Homo sapiens: one gene and its partner. The protein of the gene in region 2 purifies or fractionates together with the protein of the main gene of each other region. This does not show direct contact. Each region holds a gene or a part of one and is shown on either strand. Other genes may lie near its edges. The genes, in order: RFC3 and PURB.

Region 1 (3,815 bases), on a different chromosome or scaffold from region 2:
GCAAAAGTACCCTTGGTGAGGCAATAATAATATCTTCAATATACAAATGAAGATAAAACTCTAAAATGAAGTTACCTGATCAAGAACACTTAGCTAGGAGTTCAGGACAAGAACTAGAAGTCTGACTTATAGTCTGGTGTCTTTCTAGCACATGATGCATCATTGATTACAAAGTTTTACATTGTCCTTTACTAGAAAGCTACGCACATTATCTCTAGCTTTGTGTTGTATGTTAATGTTAAGTAATCTGAGATCCTAAAAGGAAAATTAAAATTAATATAAATTCCACTTTTACATGATCACATGTAAGCCATGATATTACAGCTTAATAAAAGCCATAATATCACACACCAACTATTCTGAACCACTAAATTTCTGAAGTTAAATGCTACATTTTCCTTAAAAAGTTAATACATAGATTCAGGATTTAATTATAATTCAAAATGACATTAGCATAAAATAGTTAATATGTGTCCTATGATATCCTGATAATGAAAGCTTTACTGTCATCATTTTATACTGGTACCTTTGTGGAGTTTGCTGACTGACAATAGCATTTGCAGTCTCCCTCAGATACACCTCCCAATCTGTCTCAGGGATTTCTTGATCTGCAGTAAAAGGATATCTACATGACAAAAAGAGAACACAAGAAGTTAAACAGAAGTGTGCTTATGTCCTAAAACAGGAGTCCCCAACCACTGGTCCGTGCGGTTAGGAACCGGGCTGCACAGCAGGAGTGAGCAGCGGATAGGCCAGCATTATGGCCTGAGTTCCACCTCCTGTCGGACCAGTGATGTTATTAGCTTCTGATAGGAGCGTGAACCGTATTGTGAACTGCTTATGCAAGGGATCTACGCTCCAAATGAAAATCTAATGCTTAATAATCTGAGGTGGAACAATTTCATCCTGAAACCATCCCCCACCCCTGCCCAGTCCATGGAAAAATTGTCTTCCACAAAACTGGTCCCTGGTGCCAAAAAGCTTGGGGGCCAAAGTCCTAGAATGTAACTACCCCTTCCACTCACTGTTGCACTCTGCAGGCTTCACACATAAGCAGGGCTTTTCTGAGATTTCTACAAGACTTCTCTGCAAGTCTATGAGCCAGTTGTGAAGGAAGATTCAGACCTTCCTTCTTACACACAGTAGATAACACGTGGCAAATCTACAAATAAAATTAACAAAAATGGGCAATCCATTAAAAAGCAGATTAAGATTCATTTCTGTTGATATCCTCCTAGACCCTTATAACTGTATTACTCTCAAAATTCTTATAAGTGAAACTTACACTAAAAGTAACTTACCACTCTGCATCTAACACAATGTTGCATATTATCCCTACTTTGCATGAAATCTCCCAAAATCTATTAAAAGCTGGAAAGATATTTAATGTGAGGAATCATAATTTTTGCTGATGGCTGTTAAGAATGGAGAAAAAAATATATCTATGTATATATATTCATATTAATGTTATTTCATACTAACTTTAATTCCCTTCCTAGGGACTAGGTATTCCCACATCATCTCTTTGCAAAATCTGTTTCCTCAATATTCCAGCCTCCTCTTATAGCCAACTAAATCAGCTTGAGAAAGAAGACAGTAAATAACTAGCCCTTACCTAGTTTAGTAGAATTCGTAATACCTACTTGTTCAAAGTAAAGATGGTTTAAAGGGAAAAACACTTTCTATATATTGGCATCTGGTATTTACAACTATACGCTTTGGTTTGTTCACATATTAATGCTTTGCATCCAGGTCTGTAGGTGTTCTTAAATTACTGATACGATTCCCTTCTTTTACAACAAGCATACAATATTCAGAGAATCTGAACTGATTTATTTTTCAGAAAAGTGTAACTTGACCTACATCTTCAATGCTGGGAGCAGGCACACGAACCGCCAAGCACCTACTACGAATAGGTGGGATCACTTTAGATGTAGAATTGCAGCACAAGATCAATCTGCAGGTAGACATATATTTTTCCATGGTTCTTCGCAAGGCATGCTGAGCATCTTTGGTGAGTTTGTCAACTTCTGTCAATAATACCACTGAGTCAAAGAGAAACAAAACAAACTTTAACTTGAGTTCACTCAAACTTTAACTTGTCTCTTTCTTCCTTCTCATTATCCAGGATGAAATCCTAAATAATAAGCCTGATATACTACTCTTCCCATTGGCAAAGATAAAGTTATAAGTATGGTAAAATTACTTTATTATTTTAAAATGCTACAATCATACTCCAGTTTCTCTTCAGATCATATAAATATTTTGCCTTTTACTAAAGACTTCTATAGAGAGGAACAGCTCTGAGTTTTTAATATTGTGAGACCTTGCGTTGGCAGGGCTAGTAAAAAAAAGAAAAGAATCTATAATCAAACAAGACCAAGAAACACTAGGCTAAATGAAGTTAAAAGGTCACTTTGTAGTAGAAATCATTGCAACCTTTATTATTTATATGCGCTAAAATTTACCAAGACAAGGAAGTACTGTGCTGCATTTCCCCAAAATAACTTTACTCAGCAGCACATTTCTGTGGTACACCTTAATCTAAAATATTAAATTCCAAGGAATAGACTTTGGAAGACAGTGGTGCAAGAGATGTAGGCAACAAGGCATGAGGATATCTGGCCACCATAAAGTAAGATTCCATCTGGCCACAATCACAGATCAGCCTTAACATAGTTCAGGAATAATGTATACACAGAAACTGAATCCAATATTGTATTTTTCATTATATTAACAAATTATTTCTAGAAGATGAACTGGCAGCATGTAGCATTTAGATCTGCCCCATAAAAATAAACAGAACAACTAAAGATTCCAAAACAAAGAACCCATGAACATTATACAGAAACCAGGCAACAAGCTTTACCCAAGAACCCCAAACATGAGCAAGTGAGAATAAGCAACTAAAACTGGAAAGGCCCACATAGTATCAGCAACGGTGTGGGAGGAAGATTTTGACAGACTTTATGACAGGAAAAGCTCAAAATCACCCACGGGAACATACTAGAAACCATGGTGCGGCCAATTTGAAAGCAGCAGTTGGCCAGGCACAGTGGCTCATGCCTGTAATCTGCCTGTAATCCCAACATTTTGGGAGGCTGAGGAAGGCAGATCCCTTGAGCCCAAGAATTCAACACTAGCCTGGGCAACATAGCAAAACCCCATGTCTACAAAAATACAAAACATTGCCGGGCATGGTGGTGTGTGCCTGTAGTCCCAGGAGACTGAAGTGGGAGGATTACTTGAGCCCAGGAGGTCAAGGCTGCAGTAAGCTCTGATGGCACCGCTGCACTCCAGCCTGTTGCCACACAGTGAGACACTGTCTCAAAGAAAGCAGCAGTCTTACCGAGGGGGGAGATTCGACAGAGCCCAATTTATGGGTGAGAGCAAGGGAACCCTGATGCAGTAAGGTTTGACAGAACAGCAGACTCTGAGAATACCAAAATGAAGTTCCCTTCTAAGACAGTGTTCCAGGTGGCTGTGGCTGGTGCAGTGGCTTGTGCCTGTAATCCCAGCACTGTGGGTAGCCGAGCTAGGAAGATGGCTTGAGGACAGGAGTTCCAGACTAAGACAATGCTCCACAATGAGAAGAAATCCCAGACCAAATTGAGAACAGGTAAAAGAGAGACAAAGGAAAGAATCCCAATAAAGGTGACAGAAAATAAGATAGGGAATAGAGCTCAGAACACAAGGTCATTTATTTACTTTATTTTTTTATTTTATTTTTTTAGAGACAGGGTCTCACTCTGTCACCCAGGCGGGAGTGCAGTAGCTTGATCATGGCTCACTGCAATCCCAAACTCCTGGGTTCA
Region 2 (4,296 bases):
CACTGTTTCATGTGCTTACTGGCTTTTTTGACGAAGTGTCTGTTAAAATCTTTCACCTTTTATATTGGGTTATCTATTATTTGTGTTCTTTACAAGTCCATTGTTGGATTCACTATCTATGAATAACTACATTTAGGCTGGGTGTGGTGGCTCACATCTGTAATCCCAGCACTTTGGGAGGCTGAGGCGGGCAGATCACCTGAGGTCAGGAGTTCAAGACCAGCCTGGCCAACATTGTGGAACCCCATCTCTACTAAAAATACAAAAATTAGCCGGGTGTGGTGGCGGTTGCCTGTAATCCCAGCTACTCAGGAGGCTGAGGTAGGAGAATTGCTTGAACCCGGGAGGTGGAGGGTGTAATGAGCTAAAATCACGCCACTGCACTCCAGCCTGGGTGACAGAGCAAGACTCAAAAAAAAAAAAAAAAAAATTTAAGGATGAGGACATTTTGGCTTTGGAAAATCAAGTAACTGGTCAAGGTCACAGATTCAAACCCAGTGCAGTTGCAGAGCCTACACTTTTTAACACTATTCCAATTCTGCCTCTTGTTACACCTCAATGCTTACAACAAAAAGACCTCATAGGAATTATTCATTTTATTGATAAAGAAACTAAAGATTGGCAGTCAATTTCCTTAACCACTTTAATATGGCTAACTGTGGGGACAGTTAACTGATCTCTGGATCCCAAATCTAACCTCATCCTAAATCATCTTCTTTCTATATTGTTCCCACAGTGATCTTTCCAAAATGTGAACCTGATCACATACGGTGGCTCCAGACTCTGGGGTAGGCACTAACTCTCCCGCACTGCAAATGGCTTTCCTTGATCTAATCCACCCTCCAGTGTCATCTACGACCATTCTTCAGGCATACACACCCCCAGCTGCTCTGAGCTCCCAGCATCAGGCCCTGGGTGCCTCTGCACTGCCGTCTCCTATGCTGGGTGGCTCTTCTCCAGAGTTGCCAGGCCAACTGCAGTTTGCCCTTCAGAGTCAGCTCATGCCTCCTCTAGGGAACCCCACAGGCTGGTCAGAACCCGCTTCCGAGTGCTCCAAAGGATCTCCCTCCCCCCGGTCGCCAGTGTATAGACTGGAACTCTGTTCCCAGCACACAACCAGCGCGAGCAGGCTGGGGCCTGAGTATGCTCAGCTAACGCCCCGGAAGCGAGAAGGAGGGAAGTGGACGACACCGGAGTCTAAAGTAAAAGTGTCACGGGAAGAGGCGCGTAGACAGACGCAGCGGGCGGCTGAGTCACGCTAAGGCTGGCAAGTCCCCAGGGCTAGAAACCGAGCAGTAACACTAGCCTACTCTCAGCTTGCCGCCCGCCCGGCGCGGCCCCTGACGTCACCCCTCTGCGCCACGCCGCCGCGGCGCTTCCGGCCGCGAGGCCGCGGAGGGCGGGACGGAGTGACTTCACGGGAAATCGCGCGCCGGAAGTGGCTAGGGCTGCACGGAAGTCGCGGGGGCGGGGCGCGGAGGCGATGGGGGGGCGGCGGCGGCCGGCGATGAGCGGCGGGAGCGCGTGAGCGAGCCGGGCGGGCGAGGCTGGGGGGCCCCGGAGCGCGAGCCGGAGGGCGGGGGCGCGAGCGCGGCGGGCGGTGGCGGCGAGGCGGCGGCCTAGAAGATGGCGGACGGCGACAGCGGCAGCGAGCGCGGCGGCGGCGGTGGGCCGTGCGGGTTCCAGCCCGCGTCCCGCGGCGGCGGCGAGCAAGAGACGCAGGAGCTGGCCTCGAAGCGGCTGGACATCCAGAACAAGCGCTTCTACTTAGATGTGAAGCAGAACGCCAAGGGCCGCTTCCTCAAGATCGCCGAGGTGGGCGCGGGCGGTTCCAAGAGCCGCCTCACGCTGTCCATGGCGGTGGCCGCCGAGTTCCGCGACTCGCTGGGCGACTTCATAGAACACTACGCGCAGCTGGGCCCTAGCAGCCCCGAGCAGCTGGCGGCTGGCGCCGAGGAGGGCGGCGGGCCGCGGCGCGCGCTCAAGAGCGAATTCTTGGTGCGTGAGAACCGCAAGTACTACCTGGACCTCAAGGAGAACCAGCGCGGCCGCTTCCTGCGCATCCGCCAAACGGTCAACCGCGGCGGTGGCGGCTTCGGCGCGGGCCCCGGGCCGGGCGGCTTGCAGAGCGGCCAGACCATCGCGCTGCCTGCGCAGGGCCTCATCGAGTTCCGCGACGCGCTGGCGAAGCTCATAGACGACTACGGAGGCGAGGACGACGAGCTGGCAGGCGGCCCGGGAGGCGGCGCCGGGGGCCCAGGGGGCGGCCTGTATGGAGAGCTCCCGGAGGGCACCTCCATCACCGTGGACTCCAAGCGCTTCTTCTTCGATGTGGGCTGCAACAAATACGGGGTGTTTCTGCGAGTGAGCGAGGTGAAGCCGTCCTACCGCAATGCCATCACCGTACCCTTCAAAGCCTGGGGCAAGTTCGGAGGCGCCTTTTGCCGGTATGCGGATGAGATGAAAGAAATCCAGGAACGACAGAGGGATAAGCTTTATGAGCGACGTGGTGGGGGCAGCGGCGGCGGCGAAGAGTCAGAGGGTGAGGAGGTGGATGAGGATTGAAACGGGCAGCTTCCCCTACAGGCCTCCACCCAACCACCATCCCCTTGGCTAGAGAATTCCCTTTCCTGCTCATCCCCAGTGAGCTAGTGGAGAGGGAGCAAGGGAGGCCGCAGAGGGAAAAAACAAAACGTAACACAGTTAAGAGAAATAATCGTAAGAGAACAGTGACGGACAACTTGAGAAAAGCAGTCAAGTTCCAAGGAACTGACAGCAACCTGCAAAGAGGAAAACAGCATCTCCTCACCTGCGTAAAATTGTCTCAGCTTCTGTTGTTTCTCAACTGAGGTTCGTAAACCCATCAGGATAATCCCTGGAGGGAATAGATCCTTGCACATCCAGGGCAAGAAACATGTCCAAGTTACCCAGACCATTGATAACAGTTGCATTTAGGTTGCACCTGGGTAATCTGGCATAAAAGATCTCTCTAGGCCTCACTGTTGCGGTGTCTATCCCTTCACCTCCATTGAAATCAGCATTTTGGATCTAGGTCTTCATGGAATCCTTGAGAAGAGAGGCCTTTACAATTACCCAGTTCTGAGGGTTCAGGTTCACGAAAAGAAATGCAACTTGGGATAATCATGAACAGGTTAAAGATAAGATTTCAAGAAGCCATCTAAGAATACAGAACCAAATTGGATCCATTTTTTTAAAAAAATGGTTTTGCATGGAACCTGGACCAAGGCAAATGTCTTTTCTTCGCAGAATTGTTTTCCAGGATGCCAGTGGATTCAGATAGCAATGCTTGGAGTAGAATCCGTTACTAAAATAGTTTCAAAGTTGACAAAAAATTTTCAAAGATAAAAGCAGTTTTACATTGGGGGTTGCTGAGGTAGGCACAAGAAAAAGTCAGGCATAAAGCACAAGGCAGACTGTTTGAGTGGATTGGTTGCTGCTCACTAAAGTTGTTCCCCTGATCTCTAAATATGGAGGTCATTACCAAGAAATGCTTTGGTATGAATGAGAGCCAGATCTCCACTGTGTGAGCCAGTGAATTATGGCTAATTCGGCTGTTACAGCCACTGGTTGGCTGGATTTTAAACCATAAAACTTGAAGATTACCTACAAAAGTAACAGTGTGGCTATAAGCCTGAGCTTTAATGGATATACATCCTCACAGAAAAGTTGGAAATAACCAAAACTGAAGTCTTAATTTACCTTCAGTTTAATCTGTGGATTTGTTCAAATACTAAAGATCCTCAGGTCCAGAATTCCAGCATCATTTATTCTTTTAAAATTTTTAAGAACTTGATCCATTGTATCAGTACCTCACAATCAGAGTTGGCAAATGATGGATGAGTGATTCAAGCAGTGCACCCGGTGGAAGCTGAAATCCATCTGTGAATGGAACTGAAGTGAACGTGAATATGCTGACTATATCCTGGAAGCATTTTTATACCATCTTGAAATTTCAACAAACTGGCTTTTGCCAGTTAATCCAGCTGTCTTTCAAGAATAAAAGTTGGGGTTTTCAAGGATCGCCTCTTCTATATTTTAAATGGATTTTCAGTAGAAATGATTTTTACTAATCAAGTTAATCCCACCCCATCAAAAGGTATTCCTAGAAATGTCATAGACCTAGGTAACTTTGAATTGAATGGGAGCTAACGTTCTTTCCAAAGTTTTCAGGTATTCTTTGTGTGACACCTTCTCAACCAGGAGGCAAGTAACCCCGCCTCCACAATCTTAGTATTTTTTTTAAACTGCATGCCTGCCCCTTATTTGAGCTGCCTT

What was found.
Region 1: the proteins of PURB (region 2) and RFC3 fractionate together in Homo sapiens (co-fractionation; one large-scale study listed by BioGRID). This does not show direct contact.

What each region holds. Positions count from the first base shown.
Region 1 is NC_000013.11:33,828,066-33,831,880, reverse strand, and holds part of RFC3 (replication factor C subunit 3), read right to left. Parts: intron 2,046-3,815; coding exon 1,864-2,045; intron 1,163-1,863; coding exon 1,026-1,162; intron 626-1,025; coding exon 527-625; intron 1-526. UniProt on the Homo sapiens protein: Subunit of the replication factor C (RFC) complex which acts during elongation of primed DNA templates by DNA polymerases delta and epsilon, and is necessary for ATP-dependent loading of proliferating cell nuclear antigen (PCNA) onto primed DNA.
Region 2 is NC_000007.14:44,882,679-44,886,974, reverse strand, and holds the start of PURB (transcriptional regulator protein Pur-beta), read left to right. Parts: upstream 1-1,444; 5' UTR 1,445-1,626; coding exon 1,627-2,565; 3' UTR 2,566-4,296. UniProt on the Homo sapiens protein: Transcriptional regulator which can act as an activator or a repressor.